Homo sapiens: one gene and its partners. The protein of the gene in region 3 interacts with the protein of the main gene of each other region in a pairwise test. Each region holds a gene or a part of one and is shown on either strand. Other genes may lie near its edges. The genes, in order: MECOM, MAP3K4 and TPR.

The links.
Region 1: the proteins of TPR (region 3) and MECOM interact in a two-hybrid assay, tested with the Homo sapiens proteins (one study listed by BioGRID).
Region 2: the proteins of TPR (region 3) and MAP3K4 interact in a two-hybrid assay, tested with the Homo sapiens proteins (one large-scale study listed by BioGRID and IntAct).

The regions. Positions count from the first base shown.
Region 1 is NC_000003.12:169,090,070-169,093,729, reverse strand, and holds part of MECOM (histone-lysine N-methyltransferase MECOM), read left to right. Parts: intron 1-627; coding exon 628-772; intron 773-3,493; coding exon 3,494-3,660.
Region 2 is NC_000006.12:161,043,694-161,047,353, reverse strand, and holds part of MAP3K4 (mitogen-activated protein kinase kinase kinase 4), read right to left. Parts: intron 1-3,660. UniProt on the Homo sapiens protein: Component of a protein kinase signal transduction cascade. Activates the CSBP2, P38 and JNK MAPK pathways, but not the ERK pathway. Specifically phosphorylates and activates MAP2K4 and MAP2K6.
Region 3 is NC_000001.11:186,365,217-186,368,876, forward strand, and holds part of TPR (nucleoprotein TPR), read right to left. Parts: intron 2,767-3,660; coding exon 2,670-2,766; intron 1-2,669.

The DNA of each region.
Region 1 (3,660 bases), on a different chromosome or scaffold from region 3:
ATACGGGTATTGTGAGTCTTGCAGTGCATAGGCAAGGAAGGGGAAGATCATCCTGTAATCAGCATATCTAATATTGTCCTTTTAATACTGCACCAACCCCTGGACTGGAGTGTTCTGAGTCAACTCACAGCTTCGCCCAGCAAACCAGGATGCAGAATTTTCAGTGTGCCTTTAAACTGTATTTTGTTATATGCTTTAGCATAGTAGCCAAAAAATAAATAAATAAATAAAAAGGCATGTTGACTGCAACCAGGACTTCATATAGAGTGTCTCTTGGCAGAATCTATTTAAAACTTGTTCATAATTTGTCTCACTCTAAATTCTCATTATGTGAATACAAATATTCTCATGTCACAATAGAGGTAAGGAAAAGCTAGTGAGAGAAGCACCTTCTTTGCGAGACTGTACTTCATGATTTCAGTGGTTCAATATATTCCCAAAGGACCGTCATGGGCATGTGTATTATGGTAAACTGGGGAGACTTTGACTTTCTAAAGTTATTATTATTAATATTCATAGGGCATGTTTTAAGAAACAGCACTGATCAAATTCATAAGGAGTGAGTTTCCAAATAAGTTGCTAGATAAACAATAATCTTTGTCATAAAAGGCTTTCTGCTCCACACAGGTACAGCAACATCGTCGCCTCATTCTGAACTGGAAAGTACAGGTGCGATTCTGGATGACAAAGAAGATGCTTACTTCACAGAAATTCGAAATTTCATTGGGAACAGCAACCATGGCAGCCAATCTCCCAGGAATGTGGAGGAGAGGTAAAGCTGTCTTTTACTTTTTAAACTCTGTGACGACTGAAATGAACATGTTTTAAAATATACTTGCTATGCTCACTTTTGTGGCACTACTATTACTTCAGTCACCAAAGACTGGTATATATTTAGTACATATTAAATACCACATTAAATGCTTCCAAGCATTTTACATGTGTTAATTAATTTAATTTCATCATAACCCTATGAGATAGCCACTATAATTTTAGCAGTGAAGGAATGGAGACATTGAAGCTTAAACCATTGTGTCAGAGGTCACATAAGTAATCAATGGGATTCAACCTGAGCTCTCTGGTTCCAGAGCCCATAATTTTACCAGGATTTAGCTATCTGATAGCTGAATAGAATCTGTTATCAAAATTTCAGAAGTAGAAGAGAAAGCCGTCACAGGGATTCAGTTGAATCACTGATCAATAGTGGCTACTATTATACATCATAAATTATATATATTACAGGTAATATATGATTCTATATACCTGTATTATACATAAATACATATATGTATATTCTGTATATATGTAATATACATATTATAGTACATATGTATGTATGCATTTATATATGAAATACCCATGGAGTTTCCCCCAAATATATTTTACATAGAAGCTTTTATAGTCTTCTTAAGATTCTATTGCTACTTTATGTCCTCTTAAGTGACTACTCATTTAATTCTGGTCTGTTTGTTTCAGTGGGTATGAACATCCTTGTTTTTACTGCCCTGATGCACTGGCTCCCTTTTATCATCACCAACATTAAGCATGAATAGCTTAATTCATTTAAAAAAGCTTTTAATGCTGTTAATGATAATACTTAACAGTTACCCAGCACTTCACATTGCATATGAAGTTAATGAAACACTATTTCACCAAAACTACTGGATTTAATTTTTCTTATCTGTAAGCTATAATTAAATATCTATTGTTGAGAAGTAGACTTTTCTGAACACGACTATATAGTGACCTATTAAATTCAGATGCTACATTGTAAATTTCAAAATAACATGAAATTAGTTAAAAGTTCCATTATTTTTCATCATACAAGTATTATTGGATTAGTGTCCTCTGTTTTTGATGTTATCAAAAGTCAAAATTAATTATTTTATGTAATTTTTTCAAGGCAAACATCAAATAAACATTTTTTACTAAAATAACAAAAAAAATGACCACTTCTGTTTTTCAACTTGTATAAAAGTGTATCAAAGAAAAACAAGAAAAAAGACCCTTCCAGTCTCTGAGAAGTCTGATAACTACACCAGTGTGCAGTTGGATGTACCTTTCCCTTTACTTGCCCATTTGTGTGTGTGTGTGCGTGTCTGTCTGTCTGTTTGTGAAAGGGAGAGAGGAAGCAGATGATCAGAAGGACAAAGTAGCAAGAACAAGCAAGAAACAGTGACGATCTTATACTTTGATAATGATATTTACTTGATGCAAATAAGAACTGTTGAACAAAACACACCATTTGGGTTCTGAGATGCCTATTCAAATTTTCTAGCCTTTAATTGGCGATTTGTGAGCCTGTATAGTTGCAACATCTGGCTTCAGCATGTCTAAACAGCACAGAAATAAGAAGGTTGAGTCATCTAAGTTTTTCCCCTGAACTCCTACCAGGCTACTTTTGATGAATAATTTATTCTCTGTAAATTGCCACATTTGAAAACTTAATTAACAAATAGATTTTCTTAATTATGTTGGCTTTTGTTACTTTTGATTTTCATCCATGCACTCTTTTTGTTCTTTTACTTTTTCTTTCTTTTTTTTAAATAAAAATTTTAATCCACTCATGCAAGCAAGTTGGCAGTGTGTTTGGAAACTAATTTATGTCTGTGCAAAAGATGTTTTCACCATTCTTTGATAAAAGAGGTTAAGCGATTGTTTTTATTAAAAGCTTAATAATGATATGACTTTTTCTGGTCAAATGGATTTTTACTATGTGTGTTTGTCACATCCAAGATTGTTTTATTTATTTTTTAATCCTGGGAAATCTGAATATTAAATTATACTCATTTTTGTTATGTGGGAAAGTGATGGGGGTACATTGTAATACCTGAGCTTTTTCCACCCTGGCGTTTTCCTGAGAAACAAGGAACTATTTCACATTCAGACTGTAAAAAATAATTTGAAAATAGTACAAATAAGTGAGCTGTCAATTACTTCCAAATATGGGTAGAGTGGTTAGGTGGAATGTACCACAAATGTCATCTAGTATCAGTAAATACCAGTTGTTTCTTGGTAACTACTTTAACATTGTCTTTGGACTTTTAGAGTCACTTTAGGCATGTGTATTGTAGCTACGGCCCATGAGTGATATGAATTTTCCAGAAATCTATTATTTTAAATGGTGGGTACTTACATGGCAATTAGGTAAATTGTGCTGAGAACATACTTATGTGCCTTTTTATATGATATATATAGCAATATCAATTATCAAGCAAAGTCTGATAAGAAATGGGAGACCAAGATTGTTTTTCGGGTTCTGCCAGAGGCTTCATTTATAATCTGAACAATCATACAATTATTTTTTTCTTTATCTTCCCATTTGTGAAGTCACATTATTTTTTCATGGTTGACGTAGAGCATAAACAATAAAACATTTCCGATGTTAAGTGTTGAAAATCTAAACTGTTGTTGGGAAGACATAATAAAGGAACAAATTACAATTTTAAAAATGAAACCAACAATTGGACTTTTTTTTTAATGCTTTTGAAAGAATGAATGGCAGTCATTTTAAAGATGAAAAGGCTTTGGTGACCAGTCAAAATTCAGACTTGCTGGATGATGAAGAAGTTGAAGATGAGGTGTTGTTAGATGAGGAGGATGAAGACAATGATATTACTGGAAAAACAGGAAAGGAACCAGTGACAAGTAATTTACATG
Region 2 (3,660 bases), on a different chromosome or scaffold from region 3:
ATCCTCCCGCCTCAGCCTCCCAAGTAGCTAGAACCACAGGCACGCATCACCACACCCAGCTAATTTTTTTTTTTGGGTAGAGACAGGATCCCACTATGTTTCCTAAGCTGGTCCCAAATTCCTGGGCTCAAACAATCCTCCCACCTCTGTCTCCCAAAGTGCTGAGATTACAGGCATGAGCCACTATGCCTGGCCCATTTTTTTAAACATATATATATATATATATATATATATATGCATAAGTGAAATATATATCTACATATCAGAAAGTATAAAAGATCTCTTTAAATAAATAAAAATTCCAATTATAAGAACACACCATCAATTATAAGCTGTTTTTACCTTAGAATATATTATAATCTCTTAGTATATATTTCTTATATACTAAGAATTTTATTATATATATTAATATAATAATTATACTAAGAAATTATTATATAATTTTCTTAGTATATAATATCACCTAGTTTTAGGTGATTAGTTGGGAATATATAAGAGATTAGTTGTGAATGTAATATCTAAAGACATATTAGTATATCTTCAGATTTGATGGAATAGGGTATATTTACATGGGTTACAAACCAATATACCACAAACCAAGGCACCAATGAAAATTTGCTTAAAACCAATTTACTTCCTAACCGATTCAAATTAGTCTTAAAATAAGGATTTTTAAACAAATTTCCCAAAGAGCACTTATAGCTTGGTTTTTCTTATATTAAACTTGCCTTAAATTTACTTTATGATCCATCAAAAAAGGTTTTAAACCAATCTGTCCATAGAGATTTTTTGCTGTATTTTAGTATACAAACTACTATTATTATTATTTTTTAAATTTAAAATTTTTAAGATAGAATTTTTATCTTTAGTACTAATCTACTTCTAAATGTCTTTAAACTTTTCATATAGTCCATTTAAGAAAATTTCTTCACAGTTTTATTGTTTCTAGCTATAAATGCTTATCAACTCTTATTTATATAAAAAAATTGCTTAGACCAACTTTAATTCTCTTGCTCTGATGCGTTTAACTGTGTTTTTTATACCTTTATTAACAGAGCACATACATACTATTTGGTTAACCCATGGTATTTTGAAACCAAAAATGACCAGTGCTTCCACATTTAACTCCACTATATTTTTCAAGATAATTCATATTATACTTTATTACTGGGAAACACAAAATGACATATACATTGTATCACTGTGTAGGACTGGAGGTAAAGAAAATGAGTTCAGTTTCTAATACACTGAATTTGACGTGCCTATGGGACATACACGTGGAAATATCTATAGGTAACTAAAAAAACACACATGTTGGGCTTAGGAGAGAAATCCAGAGAAATGGATTTGGAAATTATTAGTATGTACAGATATTATTTAATATCGTGATAGTAGATAAGAACATCCAAGAAAAGTGTGCAGAAGAAAGGCAATGAAGACCTAGAATAGAATGTGTATTAACTATTATGTACACCCAAATAAATGATTTTGAGTCAAAGAAAACAAAAAATTGTGAAATAAAAAACAATCTTGTTGGCTCAGGCGTTGGGCTTTTTAAAATACTTTATAGAACTAATGTGGTGCATTATTGATAATGGCCACAGACTATCTGCATACAATTTATAATTGGAAAGTAATAGTTGAGAGTGAAAAAATATTACTTTTCTTATATAATTTATTCAAGTTCTTCTAATCTATGATTGAAAGGTCCTAAGTGAAAACTAAGGATTAAATGACTTTAATAGTCCCAGAAGACTGGCTACAAGCATTATTCCAAATCTGTGCTACACTTACCAGGGGCAAAACATGAAAATAATAACAGATGAAGCTTCTCACCCTAGACCTTTATTCCAACAATGAAAGCAATCTAAGAAAAAATGCCACAATCCCATTTTTCCACATAAACATAATCTCATTTCAGCAAGCCTGAAAAAGTAACTTTTATAGGTTAAATACAAATCTTGTTAAGTTTATCTCACAGCATACAAAACAGTCTATTACACAATTTTTTGAAATTTTGTGTTCAGATAAAGCAATGGTTTAATATTTGGACCTACATAGTAGGTTTAAGGAAAAGCAAATTGGGAAAGGAGCAAGATGGGACAGAGAAGCTTTTTGTTCCCCCCCACCCCAAAACAAAACCCAAGTTGGTTTTGGAAAAATATACACAAAATATAAATTCATACATCTTAGTTTAAATAATGACGCAATTCGAACTTAAAATAGACAAACTCGTGTCTAGCTACTGTGCAAAAAGGATATACCAATTACTCTACCTCAGCAGTAGCTACATTTTTAGAATAATATACTTGTGACAGAAGGAGAGGGTGATTTGGTTTGTATATTTGCCCCCTCCAAATCTCATGCTGAAATGTGACCCCCAGTGTTGGAAGTGGGGCCTGATGAGAGATGTCTGGGTCATGGGGGCAGATTCCTCATGGATGGCTTAGTGCCCTCCCCACGGGAACCAGCCAGTCCTCGCTCTATTAGTTCATGTGAGAGCTCTCTCTTGTTCCCTCTCTCTCCATGTGACATGCCTGCTTCCTCTTCACCTTCCACCATGAGTAAAAGCTTCTTGAGGCTTCACCAGAAGCTGAGTTGATATTGGTGCCACGCTTGTATAGCATACAGAACCATGAGCCAAATACACCTCTTTCTTTACACATTACCCAGTCTCAAGTATTCCTTTATAGCCAACGCAAAATGGACTGACACAGAGAGTAAATCCAAGAGTGCTTTCTGGCAACTGATGACCAGTTAGGCCTCTATAAAATCATAAGGGACTTATGACTTAAGGGAGATCTGAGAACAACACTAGGGTGTTGGGTGCGGGGGTAGTCTATAGACTTAGTCATTTCCCTGAGCATTTTTACATTTTGTCTTTACCCACTCTGACATGACTAAGGAACTTTTTAATAACAACCAAAAGCCTATTACTGATGGACAGGTGTGCTTGTTTTTTGGTTTCCTATTAATACTAAATTCCTTTGCAATTAACAAAAGTCAAATGGAAACAGAGCAGAATTCTGAAAAGGAAAATGAATAAAAAGTACAGGAGTTAGCTATATAGAATGTTTTATTTGGCAAGTTCTAATTACAGGACTACAAAAATAGTTCTTAATAACTTGATGAATGGGACACCTGATCTCCCAAGTGACTATAAATGAAATGGTGTGATTTTTGTAGCACAATTAAAGCAAACCTCTGGAACACTTTTTCCTTTGGCCAATCACCAATAATTCTGGTAAAATCAGAAGAACATAAAAATTTTTTTAAAAGAAAACTTTATAATGAAACTGAAAGGAACCAATGACAAGCAATATGGTTCATCTGACGGATATAAGACAAACAAATGAATTCCCACCATCTACAACTAAAAATGGCTCTTTAGAATATGTATTAATTGTATTTTTAATCAAACTCTTGCAATTTTTATGTTCTCCCATATACATATTGTCCAAATTTTAGAAACCAGCCTTATTTGAGCTCTCAAATGAGATGTAAACAGATGGATAATCTTTAAGTATGAGATGATCTTCAGAGTAATGATGAACTAGAATACCAGACAAGTCAGCAACCTGAAGGGACTTAGAGATCATCTAGCTCAAGCTTCTCAAATTTCAGTGTATGTTCGAAATCACTGCGTTCCTGCTAAAGTGC
Region 3 (3,660 bases):
TCCTGAGTAGCTGGGATTACAGGCGCCTACCACCACGCCCAGCTAATTTTTGTATTTTTAGTAGAGATGGGGTTCTGCCATGTTGACCAGGCTAGTCTCGAACTCCTGACCTCAGGTGATCTACCTGCCTCGGCCTCCCAAAGTGCTGGGATTATAGGCATGAGCCACCGTACCTGGCCAAGGGGCTGCCTTTAAAGTTCTTTTGACTTTAGACACTGTCCCTGGCCACCCAGAACCCAGGAGTTCAACATGGAAGGTGTCAAAGCAGTCTACTTGCTCCCAAACATGTTTCTAATTCAGCCTTTAGATCAGGAGTCATAAGGACCTTTACGGCTCAATAGAGATGATACTTTGTGAAAAGAAAATGTCAACACTGTGGAAGAGAACCCCAACAGAGAAAATATCATGAAAGTTTTAAAGGATAACACACTGAAGAGGCCATCCCTTCTTTTTCATTACAGAAAAAGTTATGAAAGCCATCAAGGCTGAAATAATAAATTCCTGTTGGAGGAAACTCTCCAGATGTTGTGCATGATGTCACAAAATTTGTAACAGAGCCAATCAAAGAAATCATGAAAGAGATTGTGGATATGGCAAAAAAAGTGGGATGAAGGGTTTCAAGATACGGACCTTGGAGAAATCCAAGAGCTAATAGCCACCATATCAGATAAATTAACAGAAGATGACTGGATGGAGATGAGTGCTTCCAAACCAGTGCCAGACGATGTGGAAAAAGAATGTAGAACTAGCAGTGTCAGAAAACATATTGGTAACAGACTATCTGGTGGAAGGGTTCTGATTACCCAAGACTGCTTTTGATTTCTTTTATGACATGGATCCTTCTCTTACATGGGCACTGAAACTATAGCAAACGGTGGAAGGAAGATTGGTAATGTATAGAAACATTTTTAGAGAAATGAAAAAGCAAGTCAGACAGAAATTAGGCTGTATTTCGTAAAGTTACATTGAGTGTGCCTCCCTCTTCTGCCTCCCCTTCTACCTCTGCAACCTGACCCAGCAAGACCAACCCCTTTTCTTCAGCCTAGGTAATGTAAAGACAAGGAGGATGAAGATGGTTGTGATGATCCACTTCCATTTAATGTACAGTAAACGTATTTTCTCTTCCTTATGATTTTCTTAACATTTTTTTCTCTAGCTTACTTTATTGAAGGAGCACAGTATATAATACAGATCACAGACAAAACGTATGACAATCTACTGTGTATGTTATTGGTAGGGCTTCTAGTTAACAGCAGTAGTTAAGTTTTTGGGGAGTCAAAAGTTACACATAAATTTTCAACTGTGGGGGGAATCAGCAACCCTAACCACTGTGTTGTTTAAGGGTCAACTGTAGTTCTCAACTCTCTTATTTTAACTTGTTTCTGCCATAGTTAATTACAAATTCAATTTCTACAAATATATGACAAAAAATTGAAATTTGTGTATCCAAACTTGTGAATTATCCAAATTTATTTTAAATACAGTGTGTTAAGCTAAATATTCAACGTTAACCTTAATTTTCCTGATATATATCCAAAGACCTATTAAAATTTTATAAATAATCATTAAGCTAAAAAGCACTAATATAAAAACCTACTCAATATGGAATACACATTTTTAAAAAACTATCTATTAAATATCTAGATTTTATGAATTCGTTTAGTTGTAACTACCACTTGTTGATCAACACACTCAAGTATTTTGAAGGAACTCTTGTGAGACTGGGAAAGTATACTTAACTAATGGAATATTATTGTATAATGATATAAATATCTGAAAATCCTTTCTTTTATAGAAATAAAAAAATTTCAAAAACCATTAAAAAAAAAAGAACCCAAAACACCTTTTTTTTTTTTTTTTTTTTTTTTGATACGGAGTCTAGCTCTGTCGCCCAGGCTGGAGTGCAGTGACGCAATCTTGGCTCACTACAACCTCCGGCTCCTGGGTTTAAGCAATTCTCTGCCTCAGCCTACAAAGTAGCTGGGATTACAGGTGCGTGCCACCATGACTGGCTAATTTCTGTTATTTTTAGTAGAGACGGGGTTTCACCATCTTGGCCAGGCTGCTCTTGGACTCCTGACCTCATGATCCACCCACCTCAGCCTCCCAAAGTGCTGGGATTACAGGCGTCAGCCACCGTGCCTGGGCACCAAAGGAAACTTCTTACCATTAACTGCTTCAGAGTCAAGTTCACCTGACTACATCAGCTGTATTATATACTACAGTCTATGTTTATGTATTTTATGTCTCTGCCTCCTTCAGTCTGTTTATAAATATAGGCTGAGTATATGTTCTTATATTGAATGCTTATTATATAGCAAGGATGTCCATATGAAATAAAGAACAGTAGTTCAGCCTTTGCAAATATTTAAAGTGCTTCCAATTTGACATTATGTACAGCATTGTAGTGAAAATCTTTGCATGTAAAATCTGGTCCAAATTACTACTTCTTTGAGATGTTCTTCACTTGTGCACTTTCTAGACACTTCTTTAAACACTTGACAATGATTTAAAGATAAATGAGTAGGAGAAATAATAGGATATGACAACTCTATACTCAACCATAACAAAAAAATATCAGCAACAGAAATGGGCTGAGCACTAACTCCTAGCACTAACAGAAGAAAAATAAAGGAATGGAGCTAAAAGCTACAAGCACTTCTTCATACCTGTTAAGTATTCAAGTTCTTGAGATAGTCTCTCATTGGTTCTAATTAAGTCTCTTTTCTCAGCTTCTAATTCTTCCTTTGTTCTTGTAAATTGGCTCTGTCATATAAAGAAGTAATAAGTAAGAAAATCAAGTAGAGCAATACAGGAAAGCGAACATAGAATTGTCACTTTAGTTAACATCAGCTGTAGTGTAAATGACTGGCTTTCTCTTATAACTTACACATCAAAGTTAAAAAATACCCGTAATTCCAATGTTTCTATTTAAATTTTGGATTTTTAAAACATTTTTACTAGGCTTATGAAAATTTTTCTCATATCTCTTTTAATCACATGGAAATGTCCTAATAACTTAGAATATCACTGTATTTACACCTTAGTTCAAATTATTTTTCAAGAAAGATTCCTAAAAATTGAATTACTTAAAACTTTTAATATATTTTGTCAGCCAGGTGCAGTGGCTCATGCCTGTAATCACAGCACTTTGGGAAATCAAGCTGGGCCGATCATTTGAGTCTAGGAGTTCAAGACCAGCTTGGGCAACACAGCGAAACCCAGTCTCTACAAGTAGAAAAAAACAGCCAGACATGGTGGCACATGCCTGCGGTCCCACCTACTCAGGAAGCTGAGGTGGGATGATCATTTGAGCCCGGGAGGCAGAGGTTGCAGTGAGCCAAGACTGCATCACTGCACTCTAGCCTGAGTGACAGAGTGAGACCCTGTCTCAAAAACAAAAAACTTGTCAAACTGCTTCCCAGCAAAACAATGGCAATCTACATGTTTTTGAGTTAGAAATATCTATCTCAAGCTACCTATGTCAGAACTGTAGGTTGCCTTTTAATATTCTTGTTTCCTGTGTAGAAGCTTTTTAGTTTGATGTAGTTCCGTTTATTTCTTTTTGCAGCTTGAACTACTGATGTGATCCAAACAATCATTACCAAGGCCAATGTCAAGAACCTTTCCCCTATGTTCACTTCTCTGAGTTTTATGGCT